Linked DNA regions of Homo sapiens. The protein of the gene in region 1 purifies or fractionates together with the protein of each later gene. This does not show direct contact. Each region holds a gene or a part of one and is shown on either strand. Other genes may lie near its edges.

The links.
Region 2: the proteins of ACBD6 (region 1) and URM1 purify together in Homo sapiens (affinity purification with mass spectrometry; one large-scale study listed by BioGRID and IntAct). This does not show direct contact.

The regions. Positions count from the first base shown.
Region 1 is NC_000001.11:180,499,778-180,503,712, forward strand, and holds the start of ACBD6 (acyl-CoA-binding domain-containing protein 6), read right to left. Parts: upstream 2,801-3,935; 5' UTR 2,490-2,800; coding exon 2,268-2,489; intron 1-2,267. UniProt on the Homo sapiens protein: Binds long-chain acyl-coenzyme A molecules with a strong preference for unsaturated C18:1-CoA, lower affinity for unsaturated C20:4-CoA, and very weak affinity for saturated C16:0-CoA. Does not bind fatty acids. Plays a role in protein N-myristoylation.
Region 2 is NC_000009.12:128,374,374-128,377,873, forward strand, and holds part of URM1 (ubiquitin-related modifier 1), read left to right. Parts: intron 1-3,500. UniProt on the Homo sapiens protein: Acts as a sulfur carrier required for 2-thiolation of mcm(5)S(2)U at tRNA wobble positions of cytosolic tRNA(Lys), tRNA(Glu) and tRNA(Gln). Serves as sulfur donor in tRNA 2-thiolation reaction by being thiocarboxylated (-COSH) at its C-terminus by MOCS3.

The DNA.
Region 1 (3,935 bases):
CAACTTTTCCAAGAAAGCTAATTCCAAGGCCAATTTGGAGGTAATTTTCATTCGACACTATAATTTATACCATTTGTTCCTACAGCTTTCTCTCTCAGGTCACATTAACTGATATTCATAATAATGACCATCAACCTTCAAAACAAGGTTCATTTTTACTCAGTACATCCAGTTTAAGAACACAGTGGGGCTGGGCATGCGGGATCATGTCTGTAATAACAGTACTTCAGGAGGCGTAAGCAGGAGGATCGCTTGAAGCCAGAAGCTTCAAGGCTGCAGTGAGCTATGAGTGTGTAACTGCCCTCCAGCCTGAGCAACGAAACAAGATCCTGTCTCTAAAAAAACTTTTTTAGTTAAAAAAAAAAAAAAAAGAACACAGCAGGACCTCTCCCCCAACTTATTTTTCCTTTAACAAATACAGGGGAAAATACGTAACTATGTCAAGAGGCAAAAAGAAAAAAAGTTTACACATTTTTAATAAAACAAAATAGGCTATTATCCAGAATTTCCTTTCCTCTAGTGTTTCAAAGAGCTGTAATTTTCCTGAACTGTTATTTAACTCTTGTCAGCAATTTTTCAGGTATGTTCAAACCTAGACTCCTCAAGTACTTTAAGTCTCTTAAAGCAAATGTTGGCGGGGCGTGGTGGCTCACACCTGTAATCCCAGCACTTTGGGAGGCCAAGGCAGGCAGATCACCTAAGGTCAGGAGTTCAAGACCAGCCTGGCGAACATGATGAAACCCCGTCTCTTCTAAAAATACAAGAAATTAGTTGGGCATGGCGGCAGGCACCTGTAATCCCAGCTACTCGGGAGGCTGGGACAGGACAATCGCTTGAACCGGGGAGGTAGAGGTTGCAGTGAGCTAAGATCCAGCCACTGCACTCCAGCCTGGGCAACAGGAGCAAAACTCCATCTCAAAAAAAAAAAAAAAAAAGTGTCAGCCAGGTGCAGTGGCTCATGCCTGTAATCCCAGCACTTTGGGCAGGTGGATCGTCTGAGCTCAGGAGTTCAAGACCAGCCTGGGAAATGTGGTGAAACCCAGACCCTCTGTAAAAAAAAAAAAAAAAAAAAAAAGTGAGTGTCATGATGTTTTTGCTTCTCTGCAAAGTGTCATGATGTTTTTGCTTCTCTGCATTCTCTGTAGGCATTATACCCAAGTGTCTTGCACATAAAAGCTGCTGAACAAATATATGTTGCTTATGATAAAGCAATTATTTTCCTTCTGGTACCAACCAATGTCACCCTGAATTATAAATTAAACGTGTCTATACACCTCCCTATTTCCAGGTAAAGTTCACAGCCTTAGACTGAGTCAGGAGCTACAATCCAGTTCTGACTGATGTATTTGTATGACCCTAGGAAAGGTGCCTACTCTCTATGGCCTTCAGTTTCCTTTACTGTAAAAGAAGGGCATTATTTCCTCTGGTGTTCATAGCTCTAAAATTTTTAGATTGTATCAAACAGAAAGGAAGACATACTCAACGAAAACATAAATCAAAGATATTTAGGATTTTATAAAAATCACAATAAAAGTTGTAATACTGCATTTTGCATTGCATCACATTATTATTATTATTATTATTTGAGGTGGAGTTTCTTCGCTCTTGTTGCCCAGGCTGGAGTGCAATGGCGCACAATCTTCGCTCACCGCAACCTCCGCCTCCTCAGCCTCCCGAGTAGCTGGGATTACAGGCATGCGCCACCACGCTCGGCTAACTTAGTAGAGACGGGGTTTCTCCATGTTGGTCAGGCTGGTCTCCAACTCCCGACCTCAGGTGATCCTCCCGCCTCGGCCTCCCAAAGTGCTGGGATTACAGCCGTGAGCAACCACGCCCAGCCCTGCATCACATTATTACAATCCTATTATCTTTTTGGATCTCTATATAGTTTTATTAACTTTACCGTATTTACTTCCATGTGGCCCTCTGGGAAAGAGTAAATGAATGATATATCTTATTTTATCCTCATTTTGTAAAGGTTCTTGGGCTGGTAAAATGCAAGATCACTGAATAAGTCAGAGAAAAAAACACAAAAACAATGTCCAGTGTCCAGCTAAATAAACATCACTCCTAAGAAAGCAAACATCTTTTCCACGTTCAGGATGATGCTCATCCCCAGCAGATGGTCAAAAAAAAAAAAACAAAACAAAATACACATACACAAGCTTCATTACACCTAGCTATTAACCATACATGCTTGCTATCAGTTGTTGAGGAAGAAGGCTCCGTGTCTTTCTCCCCCATCCACCCTCTCCCTGCTACTTTACCTGTTTGTACCTGGCATACAGGTACAAGAGCTGCTCCCTGCTGGCCACCTGAATCAGGCCTTGCAGGTGCGCGGCAGCCTTCTCAAACAGCTCGGCCAGGCAACTGGTCTCCTCGATCTCAGGGCTATGGGGGAACTCCACCTCCCCGGAGTCGTCCCCTGAGCTCAGCTCTCCACCGCTGTCGCCGGTGATGGCCCCCGCGGGCAGGAATGATGAAGCCATGTCTCCTTGCTCGCTCCGTCCCTCTGTGTCCGGTCTGTCCTCCTTGGATTGGGTGTAAGGCCGGCTTGGAGGCCTGGCCCACCAGTCTGGGTCGCGAGCCTGAGCTCCAGTCGGACCCAAGCTCAGTCGCGGCGCGCTCCCTCACGTGACCCTGCTCCCTGCCCACTTCTACTCCCTGGGCGTGCAGAGCAGGCTCCTCGACCCTCTGCCGCTCTGCCCAGTCGACCCGGTCTCCTCCGGCTTCCCTCCGGCCAACAGCGCGCTCAGGCTCGCCTCAGGCCCCTCCAACGGAACAGGAGTCGAGGGGCAGTGAGGCCGGGATGCGTGCGAGCGCGGGGCGCGGCTGGCGCTGGGCCGTGGGGGCGGGGCGGCGTGCGTGCCAGCGGCGTGCGATTCTGTGAGGCCTGCTCTGCGCCGGCGGGGAAGCGCGGGCGACGCTACGCTGGACGTCCTTCCCTGCCGGAGGAGAGAAAGTGCCGTCAGCTGTAGGGGCGTCTTTTAATCGTTTCGCTGAAATTAGCAGTCCCGAGCTCCGGAGCCCGCCACCGGGATGGGCCCCCGGGGGTGGGGGAAGGAGGCCGTTTGTGTGGTAGTGTAGCGGTGAGAGCGGAGTCGCGGGAAACGCGAGGCTGAGGACTAAGGTTCCGCCTGCCCCAGATTGTGCGCCCCAAGCGCCTCCAAACAGCCCTGCGCGCGGATCTGTTGCGTGCGCGTTGGGCTCTGTGTTGAATAATGAAAAACTGCGAGATGGGGCTGTCCCGTCTTACTGTGTGACTGATGAGTGGAATCACTGCTCTGCGTGTTTCGCTCTCCACACCTTCGGAGCCCGCACCTCTCCGGGCCCTGAATAATAGGGTTTGGGGAGTTCGGGGCGCGCCTTAGCCCAGTTCTCATCCCGAGCTCTGTCTTTGACACTGTGCTTTGTAGACACTGTACAGTGAAACCAGAAGTACGGCACAGTTCGGCCCTAGAGGAATGCACAAAACTATTTTTTTAACTGTAACATTATGAGTGGTTATGTCCTAAATGTTAAACACAACGACGCACTATATATTCATTTAGTATTCAAAACAATGTAATAAGCACTATAAGAAGGGTACAAAGAAAGTGTTGTAAACAGTGGTTATTGACTGGGGTTAGGCTTGCGACGGGTGGACGGACGGCTGGACAGGATGAGGAAGCAATGAGAGAACACAGGAAGGTGAGAAAGCTTGCATCAGGATTCAACAGACATTCCTTAAGTCTCCAGAAAGTTCCACTGTTAGTCCCTGCTGTCAAGGTGCTCGCAATCCAGTCAAAGGGATGTTTAATGACCAAATTCTTGCAATTAAAAAGTGATTAAGAATAATGTATTGAGGACTTGATCATTACAACATAAGGTAGGTACTCTTATTTTACTACACATAGGAAATCAGCACAGAGTGGTTAAGTAACTTGTCAAAGGCT
Region 2 (3,500 bases), on another chromosome or scaffold:
AGTGCCTTCAGTTCCCATCCCTCTTCTCTGACCCCCAACTCCTGAGCCCCTTGCCTGTCACCCTCCCCCACCCCAGCTGCTGCATGTGCCAACCCCCCACCCAGGAGAAAACGAGGCTCTTGGAAGGGAATAAATGGAGGCTCTGTGCAGGCTTGCAGCTGAAATGGCCCTGTGCGCGGCCACAGATGGGCCTCCTCTCCCCCTCCACATTTCTGCATCAACAAAGCGTGACCTTGTTTGGATGACAGTCGCCCCATGTTTTCCCCATGACAATGCTTGCCTTGCCTTTGCCTCCCAGCGGGCTGTCTCAGGACATCTCTGTTCCCTGAAATTGGGAAAGGGTGGTGGGGTGGAAGACATCTCATTCTTCAAAAGTCTGGTGAGGCCTTTTCAGTTAAGATCCACAAGAAGTCTGAGATGGGAATTGGGAGACCCAGAGGGAGAAGCAGCATGGGGCGCTGAAAGAGCCCTGGCGCTCATCTCAGAAGCCTCAGCTTCTGGACTTGGCTCCAATCATCTCTGCAGTCCCCGCCTTCCCTTGGCCAGGTGCTGGGACACAGAAATGAACCAAACTCTGCCCTCAAGAGGCTTTCTGACCTTTGGGAAGTCCTGTTTTTTTCTGACCAGTCTGCTGGTGCTAAGCAGGAATCAGTTAGACTGAAATTATAGTTCAGCCCCTGCCTCTCTAACCTTGGACAAGTTGGTTGCTTAACCTCTCTAGGCTTGAGTCTGCTTTTCTATCAAAGTGAGCAAATAATATCTACCTCCTTCCTTCTTCCCTGGGACTCCCTGAGGATGAAATGAGATGAGGAACATCTTATAAATGGTGAGGCGATGTGAACAGTTGTTCTTAGTTGATGCCAGGCCTCATGGACTCTCTCAGCCTCCAGCACTGTGATGTACCCACCAGGTCAGCAGCAGGTGGCATGGGCAGGAGCATTCAAACCATCATCTGGCCAGAGGAAACCCCTAGATGCACAGGGTCTCCAGAGTGCCTCACAGTGGCTCCCCAACATTTTTCCAGATGGAAAGACTGAAGCTTAAGATTGAGTCAAGGCCAGGCATGGTGGCCCACACCTATAATCCCAGCACTTTGGGAGGCTGAGGCAGAAGGATTGCTTGAGCCCAGGAGTTCAAGACCAGCCTGGGCAATAGAGTGAGACCTCACTATGTTATAAAATATTTTTAAATTATTATTAGTTTTGAGATAGGGTCTCACTGTGTCGCCCAGGCTGCAGTACAGTGGCATGACCTTGGCTAACTGCAGCCTCAACCTCCCAGGTTCAGGTGATCCTCCCACCTCAGCCTCCCAAGTAGCTGGGACTACAGGCGCACACCACCATGCCCACCTAATTTTTGTAGTTTTTGTAGACACAAGGTGTTGCCATGTTGCCCAGGCTGCTCTTGAACTCCTGGACTTAAGCAATCCTCCCTCGCCTCTCAGCCTCCCAAAGTGCTAGAGTTACAGGTGTGAGCCACTGTGTCTGGCCCCCAAAGTATTTTAATAACAAAGAAAAAAGAAGATTGAGTCACACATCTAAGGTCTCAACATAGGGAGAGGTGGAGCCTGGGCTTCACATCGGGGCCGGCAGCTCCAAAGGCTGTGTTCTGCACCTGTGTGGTAAGCTGCCTCTCTAGAAGGCAGAGGAGTAAAAACAAGAGTCGGCAAATTTGGGTACTTGATTTTTTTTTTTTCTTTTTAAATAATTAGAGACAGAGCCAGGCATGATGACTCACAACTCTAATCCCAGCACTTTGGGAGGATTGCTTGAGCCCAGGAGGTCAAGACCAGCCTGGACGACATAGGGAGACCCTGTCTCTACAAAAAATAAAAATAAAATTAGGCAGGTGTGGTGACACGTGCCTGTGGTCCCAGCTACCTGGGGGCTGATGTGGGAGGTTTGCTTGAACCCAGGAGGTTAAGGTTGTATCAAGCTGAGATCACGCTACTGCACTCCAGCCTGGGTGACAGAGTGAGACCTTGTCTCAAAAAATAAATAAATAGGCCAGGCACGGTGGCTCACGCCTGTAATCCCAACACTTCGGGAGGCTGAGGCAGGTGGATCACGAGGTCAGGAGTTCAAGACCAGCCTGGCCACAATGGTGAAACCCTGTCTCTATTAAAAAAAAATACAAAAATTAGCCAGGTGTGGTAGCACGTGCCTGTAATCTCAGCTACTCTGGAAGCTGAGGCAGAGGATTGCCTAAACCCAGGAGGCGAAGGTTGCAGTGAGCCAAGATCGCACTACTGCACTCCAGCCTGGGCGACAGAGCGAGACTCTGTCTCAATAAATAAATTTTTTTAAAAAGTAAAATAAAATAATAAAAATAGGCCAGGCACAGTGACTCATGCTTCTGATTTCAGCACTTTGGGAGGCCAAGGCAGGGAGATTACTTGAGCTCAAGAGTTCGAGACCAGTCTGAGCAACATGGCGAAATCCCATCTCTACAAAAAGTACAAAATTAGCTGAGTGTGATGCCATGCACCTGTAGTCCCAGCTGCTTGGGGGTCTGATGTGGGAGGATTGCTTAAGCCTAGGAGGTCAAGCCTGCAGTGAGCTGTGATTGTGCCACTGAACTCCATGCTGGGTGACAAAGCAAGACCTTGTCTCAAAAATAAATAGATAATAATTTCCCGGGTGCCTAATGATAATAATAATTACATAGAGACAGGGTCTTGCTATGTCACCAAGGCTCTATTTCACTGAGGCTCATCTCAAACTCCTGGCCTCAAGCAGTCATCTCGCCTTGGCCTCCCACAGTGCTAGGATTCCAGGTGTGAGCCACCACACCTAGCCGGTACTTGATTATTAGTAAAAATTATATCCTACCTTGCCACATTAGAAGTCATATTTAGGAATTGGTCACTGGGTCTGGGCAGAGTGGCTTGTGCCTGTAATCCCAGTGCTTTGGGAGGCTGAAGTGGGAGGATTGCTTTAGGCCAGGAGTTTGAGATCAGCCTGGGTAACATAACAAGACTCCATCTCTACAAAAAATTTAAAGATTAACCTGATATGGGCCAGGCGCGGTGGCTCATGACTGTAATTCCAGCACTTTGAGAGGCCAAGGTGGGCGGATCACCTGAGGTCAAGAGTTTGAGACTAGCCTGGCCAACATGGTGAAACCCTCTGTCTAAAAATACAAAACTTAGCCAGATGTGGTGGCTCATGTCTGTAGTCCCAGCTACTCGGGAGGCTGAGGCACGAGAATCACTTGAACCTGGGAGGCGGAGGTTGCTGTGAGCTGAGATCACACCACTGCACTGCAGCCTGGGCAACAGAGTGAGACTAAACAGAGTAAAATAAAATTAAATATAAACATAAATATTAATATAAAAAGTAGCCTGATATGGTGGCATGCACCTGTAGTCCTAGCTACTTGGGAGGTTGAACAGGAAGGTCTCTTGAACCCAGGAGTTCAAGGTTACAGCGAGCTATGATTGCACTGCTGCATTCCAGCATAGGCGACAGAGTAAGAACCTGTCTCTAAGAAAGAAAGGG